Regions from separate parts of the Homo sapiens genome. Here all the other regions are reported to be linked to region 3. The links are microRNA targets in miRTarBase. Many come from high-throughput screens and were not tested one by one. Region 3 holds a microRNA gene; each other region holds the end of a gene's coding sequence.
What was found. Region 3 holds the annotated microRNA hsa-miR-4652-3p (GUUCUGUUAACCCAUCCCCUCA, at 1,647-1,668, opposite strand). A microRNA usually pairs through its seed, bases 2 to 8, with sites in the 3' UTR of a target mRNA and lowers its output. Matches are read on the target gene's strand: a 7mer-m8 pairs with bases 2 to 8, a 7mer-A1 pairs with bases 2 to 7 and ends in A, and an 8mer does both.

Region 1 (3,232 bases), not on the chromosome of region 3:
ACGTCTCAAGACAAGCCCCAAAGAAGTTTCAGTTCCTGAGGCTAGACCAGGGACTCAATTCACTTAATTGTGCTTAGATCCCTTCTTAGAAGTACTGATACGTCAAAAGGGGAAAATGATGGAATGCTGACAGGTTTTATCAGTTAACTTACCATCTCAGTCTGGTTTCCACTTTCAGAGGATGAGGGAAAATGTTCCCTTCCCCAAATCCATCCTATGTTATTAGAAAAGTGCAACTCATCTAGTTCTGTGCTAAATTTAAACCAAGCTGTCACTCAGGAAGATTCCCCTGCCTGTCAGTTTTATGAATTCTAAAAACCAAGTCTACCTGTAATACTCTCAAGACATCTTTCAGCAGAGAAAAGAACTGGCTCTTTTTATGAGAGCAAGCAGGACTAAATACAAATCTACACTTCACTTGAGAGATGCACCCACTACTTGCCAACTAGGTGCTGGTACTAGTGCCAGGGGGTTCATGGCTGTGTTTGTCCCTCTCTGTGTTCTCTGTCACTGACTAGTAACCAGCACTGGCATGCATCAACAGACCTTTTTCTATTCTGAATGGTCACAGGCAATGTGAAGTAGGAGTTGCATATAGTACAAAAAAACTTTCCAGGTGCTAAAAAAAACCCACTGGTTGATGAGTAGTAGACTGTGCAGCTAAAGATGCTATTTATCACTAGAACTGCAGCCCTTGTTGGAGGGAAATTGCTTGATGAATTTTTGAGACCTGGCAGACAATATAGAGCACATATTTGTGAAGCCATAATTTGACCTGAAAATCATTACACTGTTGCTTAATGTTTTAAAAAATTCCTTTTGAATACCATCCAACACAAATTGTCCTTGTTTCAACGTTCATAGTTCTCGCTTCATCAGAATAAGATTATCTGAATTAGAAGATGATCCTAAAAAGGGTAATTCTGTAACCGGAAATTATTTCAGAATGTCCAGACATTTAAAAATGAGCTAGTAATATTGTGAGGTTAATATGTGCAATTCCCAAAATCAAGTGTTTGTAATTAAAATATATTGCAAAGGTCTTTGTTGGAGACCTTTTATATCTAAGCTATAAAAAATTCTAGCAACAACAACAATAACAACAAAAAATCTCACCAGCCCCTCAGCCACAGAAAGCTGGAAAAAAACCCAGCTTGTGGTGGGGACAAAAATATGGTAATTTTTCTGAAAGAATGCTCGTTGGTGATGTATTGCTTGTTTACTGTATATGTTCCTAGTTGCAAAAAGGTTCATAATTTTATGGGGCTGATGGAACTAACACCTTCCTCTCATCCTCTGCACAGGATGAGTGGGTTCAATATCCCTGCAGATGCCAATGCAGGACACCTGGGTCCTGATACAGTTTAGAAAATGAAATCGGTATAGAAGAACCTATTGGAGAGTCACTTATCCTTGGCTCTCCAAGAGAGGAAACTAGCACCATGTCGGGCTTTCTATGGGAAGCATTCTCTTTCCACTGATTCAGTTCCAAGGAGAACTGACCCATTAACCGAAGAGTTAATTCCCGGCTATGCCTCCCTTGCCTTTCTAGTCACCAAATAACTGTTTTCAAACAAGAAAAGGGGAGCATAATCTTTAATTGTGGTACTCAACCAAGCAGGACAACAAACAGCAGAAAGATTACCTCAGTGCTGTAAATGGAACCAAGACACCTAAAATGCTGGGGTGTTTTTTACAATCCCTTTAGTAAGTATGAAAATTGGTAACGTGAGTCCTCAGTGAAGTTATTGTAGGAAAGTCCTTTTATTCATTATTGCTTTTCTCCTCAAGAGGCGCATTATTTCCATCTCTGCTTTGTCTGAGTTTTCATGTTCACTGACTTTGCCTGGGCAGCCCCACCTCTTACCTTGGTGCCAGTGTGTCTAAGAAAGTTTTTTTCCCCTGGTTCCTTGTAATCAAATACTAGGGGCAGGAAGAGATGATGCCTAGGTGACAGAACACTGCAATTTGAAGTGGGGCAGTAGTTTTTTAGACAGGCTCTTCCTATTCAACTACAGAACACCTCTGTGCCAGTCCATGCCAGGGCAGAGACCAGGACGAGACTTCAACTGCCCCTCTGCTCGAACAGATGAACAAAACAGAATCGAAACAAAACAAAAACAATCAACGACAAACAAATGAAAGATTCAATGTTGGTTTTCTTCAGGGCATGGCAGAATGACAAGTTGAGAGTGATATCTAGTGGCTGCCATCGCGATTGCAAAGGGCTGCCTGAGTGCCCTTTCTTTGCAGGTAATGGGACCTCTCCATCTGCTTCTTCGTTTCTACTTTCATGCTGCTTGCTGGTAACAGATTGGATGTGTGTTCTAGCTTACTCAGATTGTAACTAAAATTTCTGTAAAAAGGGGTTAAGGGATGGGATGATGGGAGATTCATCCAAATTTAAAAGGTCTTGCTCTAGCCATCAATTTGTGGTAGGTGACCTTTAAGGTATCAATAACAAAATGTCTGACAGCTCAGAAAATGTACAAGCTACAAACATCTTTAAATGGCAGAGGACACAGCACGGAAAACAATGCCTGTCTCTTCAGCATTTATGTCACTGAGCTCCCAGGCCCGGGTAAAGACGGTTCTCGTCTAGTCATGATGGGGGTTACCTTCAGACCAAAAGAAGTGTGCCTTCTTTTTCCTGCTCTGGTTTCAGACATCGTGGGATGGTGATGCCCTTTTGTGTTAACACTGTGAAGGGGATTCAGCCCTGCTGAATTGGGTGCCGCTAAGAGATCCAGCTCTTACGCTCAGCTGGACAGGTAGCATTCCTCACACCAACATATGCCTCCGGCGGTGCAGGGCCAAATGATCTGACCGGGAAAAGCTGCGATCACAGTCCGCGCACTTGAATGGCTTCACTCCCGTATGTTTGCGGTAATGCCTCGTCAGTTCATCTGAACGAGCGAACTTCCAGGTGCAGCCTTCCCAGGTACACTTGTAAGGTTTCTCTCCTGGAAGAAACAAAGGAACACAAGCTTTGGTGCTCCATCCATCACTTTGCCATAACCAGGCCAGTACTCTATTTTGGGAAACTGGTGTTCTCAATGAATTTTCCCGTTGGTAAATCTTTGTCGGGAAACCTTACCATCCCACCAGCGGTCTGGGTCAGACAGGTGATGGTTTCAATCTCGTCTTGCCTGCTGTGACATCTGGCAAGCTAGTTAACACTGGTGTCCTCCATTATGACTTTGCCATCAACATATAAAGGCATGGATTGACT
Region 2 (3,262 bases), not on the chromosome of region 3:
TCAACAGTGTCATCAAAGACCTAGTTTCTTTCCTCATACTAACAACTTCATTCCAAGATGGGCTCCCCTTAGGGTTATAGGATGACTACCAGAAGCAACTGCAGCCACATGCATCCTCGTAGACATTCAGTATTGAGAAACAAAAGTCCCTAGCTTCATTTTAAATATACAGTACTTTGCTTAGCCAATCGACTTTAGCAAGAGGGATGAAGATATTTTCATAGGTTTGAAGATCACTCCTGGGGTTGGCAGGAGTGATAACATCACTGTTGTACAAATTCCCTCTCTCTTCCATTCTACAGGGAAAAATGAGACAAATGGTGGAAAATCACAGTGTTATTTAATCTAGTGTTCCCTCATGTAAAAACATATGAAAAGTCCAAATAAGCATATATTTGGGATGGGATGGTTGGGGGCATTGCTGCTCAGTTGTTTCTCTATGTGTTAGATTGGTTGCACTGGGATTTAATAAGTCAATTTTTAAAAAAGTAATAAATTTTAAATTTTTTTGAATTTTTAAAAAGTCAATTAAATAATTTATTTCTTTCTAATGCCAGGGACAAGATCCACCAGCTCCTCCTGTGGACTAACTTTGTGATATGGGAAGTGAAAATAGTTAACACCTTGCACGACCAAACGAACGAAGATGACCAGAGTACTCTTAACCCCATTAGAACTGTTTTTCCTTTTGTATCTGCAATATGGGATGGTATTGTTTTCATGAGCTTCTAGAAATTTCACTTGCAAGTTTATTTTTGCTTCCTGTGTTACTGCCATTCCTATTTACAGTATATTTGAGTGAATGATTATATTTTTAAAAAGTTACATGGGGCTTTTTTGGTTGTCCTAAACTTACAAACATTCCACTCATTCTGTTTGTAACTGTGATTATAATTTTTGTGATAATTTCTGGCCTGATTGAAGGAAATTTGAGAGGTCTGCATTTATATATTTTAAATAGATTTGATAGGTTTTTAAATTGCTTTTTTTCATAAGGTATTTATAAAGTTATTTGGGGTTGTCTGGGATTGTGTGAAAGAAAATTAGAACCACGCTGTATTTACATTTACCTTGGTAGTTTATTTGTGGATGGCAGTTTTCTGTAGTTTTGGGGACTGTGGTAGCTCTTGGATTGTTTTGCAAATTACAGCTGAAATCTGTGTCATGGATTAAACTGGCTTATGTGGCTAGAATAGGAAGAGAGAAAAAATGAAATGGTTGTTTACTAATTTTATACTCCCATTAAAAATCTCTAATGTTAAGAAAACCTTAAATAAACATGATTGATCAATATGGCAGATGATTTACAGTCCATTATATGACATTTGTAAGCCACTCAACACTAGCCTTACAAGGTTCATGAAAGGAGGAAAACATTAATTCTTTCTGCCTTTGCTGATATAATCCACATAGTAATAATTTAAGCTATAATTTATTTTTAAAATGAGTGCCTCTTGGGAAGCTTCTTTTCTGTTCTAACAGTTCCCTGTTAAAATGAAAATCTTAGGCCAGTGCAGTGGCTCACACCTGTAATCCCAGCACTTTGGGAGGCTGAGGTGGGTGGATCACTTGAGGTCAGGAGTTCGAGACCAGCCTGGCCAACATGGTGAAACCCTGTCTCTACTAAAAATACAGAAAAATTAGCCAGGGTTGGTGCATGTGCCTGTAATCCCAGCTACTCAGGAGGCCAAAGCAGGAGAATTGCTTGAACCCGGGAGGTGGAGGTTGCAGTGAACCAAGATCGCACCACTGCATTCCAGCCTAAGCAATAGAGCGAGACTCCCTCTCAAAAAAAAAAAAAGAAGAAAATCTTAAAGCTGTATTAGGGCCTGTTAGGTTACTGATATTTGAATGCCTATTTACTTATTTACTACATTGAGTCTTTTGTTATCCTCTGACCTATAAAATATTTTAATAAATTACTGGTTTACTTCAAGGGAAAAGAAGGAAAATGAGAAACATACATCTTTTTTTCACTCCTTATCTCATTCCTGTTTGGTGATGGGATGGATTGGGGTAGGAAGGAATGTTAATATGAGAGAAATTTTAAAATGTATAAAAAAGTAAAAGGTTGTATTGTTTTGCTCAGTTTGAAATAAAGTGAATACCAATAGCACTTAAAAATGTCTGCATGGGCTGGGCACGGTGGCTCACGCCTGTAATCCCAGCACTTTGGGAGGCCGAGGCAGGCGAATCACCTGAGGTCAGGAGTTCGAGACCAGCCTGACCAACATGGTGAAACCTTATCTCTACTAAAAATGCAAAAATTAGCCAGGCATGGTGGTGTGTGCCTATAATCCCAGCTACTGGGGAAGCTGAGGCAGGAAATTGCTTGAACCTGGGAGACGGAGGTTGCAGTAAGCTGAGATCGTGCCACTGCACTCCAATCAGGGCGACAGAGCGAGACTCTGTCTCAAAATAAATAAATAAATAAAAATGTCTGCATGACCCATATGGTTATGAAGTTTTTTTCCTAGCAAATGATTGCAGATTATTTATGGGGGCTAGAAGATATTTTGCTATCAATGTAAGGATTTTTTTCCCCTTAGGTCAGTCTATTCACTGTTTAGATCTGGTAAATTACTTGTATGAATTGAATAAATTCTCTGTATCATTGTACTGTTTAATAGTCTCTGATACAATTGTGATACTCATAAGGTATTTTCCCCCCTTTATTATGATTACATTCTAGATCATAAACATTGTAAGGGCATCTTTTCATTATATAATCCAATATTGATTGTTTGAATTCCTCCTTGTACATCCTGGCTTTGTGCTCAATTTCTTGAAATAATATAACCAACTCTAAATTACTTGTGTTAATAGATCGGTAACATGACACAGGTAAGTTAAATCCTGGATAAATGAGCCCCACAGAATAAAGGTTTTTCCTCTTGCTGTGGCCTACTGGAAGCCTTCCTAACTCTATAGCTGGTAAAGTAGAGCAGAAAGGGCCAGAATGGCTTAAGATGGAGCTAAATCCCTATAGCATTCCATTTTCTGCTCTTGCCTCTTGAACTTAGAAGGCTTGCCCATATATCCTAACAATCTGTTCTCTGAGCTGTTAGGCCAATCCCTGGCAAGAGATATTGATGTAGTCACTGAATCTATGGCTCACAAATAATTGAAAATTGGCTTTGGGAGCTGGGCGCAGTGACTCATGCCTGTAATCCCAGCACTTTGGGAGGCTGGGGCAGGTGGATCACTTGAGGTCAGGAGGTTGAGACCAGCCTGGCCAAGACGGTGAAACCCCGTGCCTACA
Region 3 (3,262 bases):
ATTCAAATTGAGTAACAAAAGAAATTGGCTCAGTTTATCCTCTGTTTTTATCACTGCAAGCCTAGACATAGTGATTAATCCAGAAATAGCAATTATTTCCTATTTTCCCTAAAAATAACACTTAGAAGCTGGGCAACTCAGCTCTGAGACTCAGATTGTGCAGTTTGACATCTGATGATTATAATGTCTGCTGACCTCAAACTGTATTGTATGAATTACATAATAACCATGCATACAAAAGAAAGCAGAAATCATGAGGAATATTATAGTATAAAATCATTAATGTTATTTTCTTAATTTCTGCAGAAGTATCTATGAACCTTAACTCTGCTTATAATATTTTTGCCATAAAGTAGAATTTCTTTTCATTCCATACAATACCTCAATCTTTTCCTTTATAGCTTTCTTGTTATCACTCATAGGAAGTTATTTTGCTGAAAAACTATGTAACATTCATGAATAATTTATCTTAATTTTTTTCAGTCTCTAATATTTAATTCAGCTATAATTTTGTTATAAGGTATGTAACTTAGTTATCAAAAATATTTTTCCCTGGCAAATAATTCCTCAGTTGTCTTTTGAAATGGCAACGCCAAAATTGCTATCACCATTTTACAGATGAGTGACAGTTACTCACAGGGCTAAAGTGATAGACAGTGGTGTGGGCACCAGCTCAAACCTGCTCTCAAGAGGCAATTGCAGGTAGCATTTCTGAACTCCATATTCAACAAATTGGATATGATGGAAATACACCATGAAAATCAGCAAATACTACAAGCTTTCAACTTTCCTCCCTCCCTTCCTCCCTCTCTCCATCTTTCCCTCACTCCCTTCCTCTCTCTCCCTCTCTCTCTATTCCCCCCTCCCTTCCTCCCTCCCTCCTTCCCTTCTTTTCCTTCCTTCCATCCTTCCTTCCTCCTTTTCTTTCTCTTTCTTTCTCTCTCTCCCCATTTCTCCCCATTTCTTCCTTCTTTTTCTTTCTCTTTCTTTTGGTTCCCTCCCTCCCTTTCTTTGTTCCTTCCTTCTTTCATTCCTCTCTCTCCTCATTCCCTTCCTCCCTTATTCCCTGTTCTCCTCCTCTCCTTCCCTCCTTTTCCTAGGTTTAAGGGCTTTGCAAGTTCTCTTTAGTGCACCTGGGTTGACCTGATTTTGTTGTTCTCTACTATGTGGTTTGGGATGTGGTTTCAAAACTCATACCACCGCAACTTATTCATTCATAAAGATCTCTATTTCATTTGAGTAATCATTATGACTTATTGTAGCACTGGAGGACTGAGGAGTGCTTTGGGGCCAGAGGTTGGGTAATACTTAAGAGGAGGTGTTGTCAGCTGTTTGTTAGAAGAGAGACTTGCTGTCTGAAACTCAGTGAGTTGTTGCCTACAGGTCAGTAGCAAGGCCAGGAACATGACCTTGGATTTAAGATTTTCTGTCTTTTCAATGGAAACAATATGCTGACCATTTCTTTCACTTCGTAATCCTTCATCACATAGTCTCCCTTCAGAAGGTCTTCTCAACCACCACTGACATTGATTGCAAAGATTTTTAAAATTCTCATCACTTTTTCTCTCTGGTCTGACACTAGGGGACTGCTTGTTTGGCCTTACTCAGCCTAGTTGAGCTTATATTGAGGTTTATACTCTATTAGATGAGGGGATGGGTTAACAGAACAAAATAGTTCTGGTTAGTTAGTTCTATTAACCAGTCCCCTCGTCCAATAGAGTCAAACGATTCTGAATCACTGTTGGCCATTATCACTCTCATCACTACTCCAGTCTGACCAACTTTTGCATAGTTATATATATAGTATGTAACTTAGTTATCTAAAGTATTATATATATAATATTATATATATGCATATATAGATAGATAGATAGAGAGAGAGAGAGAGAGTCTTTCTCAGTTGTCCAGGAGTACAGTGGTGTGATCATGGCTCACTGAGGCTTGGATGTCCAGGCTCAAGCGATCCTCCCACCTCAGCCTCCTTCCTGGGTAGCTGGGATTACAGATGTGTGCCATCACACCTAGCTAATTTTTAGTAAAGACAGTCTATGTTGCCCAGGTTGGTCATCAAGTTCTGAGCTCAAGGGATATTCCCACCTTGATCTCCCAAATGCTATGATTACAACAGGCCTGAGCCACTGCACCTGGCCGCAAAGCAATCTGTAATTGTTACAGCTTACCCTGTGAGGTGTAAAGTTGAATTGGAGGTGGGGAAGAAGCATCTCTGACAATACCCCACAGCTTTGTGTAATCCCACAGCTTCTTGCACAAGAGCTTGCATATAGCTGGAGTTCAAGAAATATTTGTGGATTGGATGGATGTACAAATGAATGACAGTAAAGAGGCTACATCTGACAAGGGAGGAGGAAGCTGGGCAATGAGGATCCAGGGGACACCAGTAGGGAGGTACGGATAAATCTTTGAGATGGGAGAAAGGAGAGGCTGAAAGCGATAAGGATATAGGAAGCCCGATGCAGGCAGAGGACAGAATCCAAAGAGTTGCACACAATGCAGGTGTGTAAATGTGGACATTTAACAGGGATGGCATATTTAAAGTGGTATATTTTGAGATTTTCACTTGTTTTCTTTTCACTACCAACAAAGCTGAGTGTAATGATTAATTCTTGAAGATGTCTAAGCCAGGAAAGGGAAAAGAAAGTATTCATAACTGTCAAACAATGAATAATGGACATTTATTTGACAGTTCTTGAACATTAAAATTGAGCTAAGTTCTACATTATAATATGAAGTAGTTATAATAGGCATATAATATGTTTCCAAACATTATATGCCATTACTATGATGTGAAAATAATACCAAAGATCAGTACTTTCAACACCTGAATCACTTTGTGGTTGCAGTGCGGCAATTCTATGTACTGATTGTCTCTGAGTTTTTAACAGTGTAAGATGGTATAAAAGTCATCCATGATATCTGTAGTATTATCCAACTGTGTGTCTCACCAGCTGTGTAACTTCAGGTTAGTCCTCACTACCTCTCTGGGTTTAAATTTCCTAATCTTAAAATGAGGTCCAAGCTGGAAAATCCATCAAGTTCCTTTCTGGTCTAGCATTCATTGATTCTAGGATGTAAGATTATGCCGCGTAAATATGGACAAGACTTTCTTTTTCATTCCCCTCTTTCCATGAAGACAGGCTCCTTCTCTCTTCATAAACCATGGACTTATCCTAGGTCAAGGCTTCCTGGTCCACAGGAGACCCCTGGCGGCCACCCTGGCGAATTCTCTTGATAGATGTTACCT

Region 1: miRTarBase lists KLF12 as a target of hsa-miR-4652-3p. Seed matches in the 3' UTR shown: 7mer-A1 at 2,354-2,360.
Region 2: the mRNA of SMIM14 is a reported target of hsa-miR-4652-3p. Seed matches in the 3' UTR shown: 7mer-A1 at 1,632-1,638.

What each region holds. Positions count from the first base shown.
Region 1 is chr13:73,692,709-73,695,940 of GRCh38, forward strand. KLF12 (KLF transcription factor 12) reads right to left here. Exons shown (of 8, transcript NM_001400136.1): 8 at 1-2,963. The coding sequence ends at 2,782. Among named protein-coding and RNA genes, the nearest start is that of LINC00393, 32 kb to the left of the region's middle.
Region 2 is chr4:39,549,454-39,552,715 of GRCh38, reverse strand. It overlaps SMIM14 (small integral membrane protein 14), which reads left to right. Exons shown (of 5, transcript NM_174921.3): 5 at 558-3,262. The coding sequence ends at 590. The region is part of intron 2 of UGDH-AS1 (UGDH antisense RNA 1); the gene reads right to left. Among named protein-coding and RNA genes, the nearest start is that of UGDH-AS1, 23 kb to the right of the region's middle.
Region 3 is chr7:93,715,383-93,718,644 of GRCh38, reverse strand. MIR4652 (microRNA 4652) reads right to left here and starts at 1,717; the gene lies at 1,640-1,717.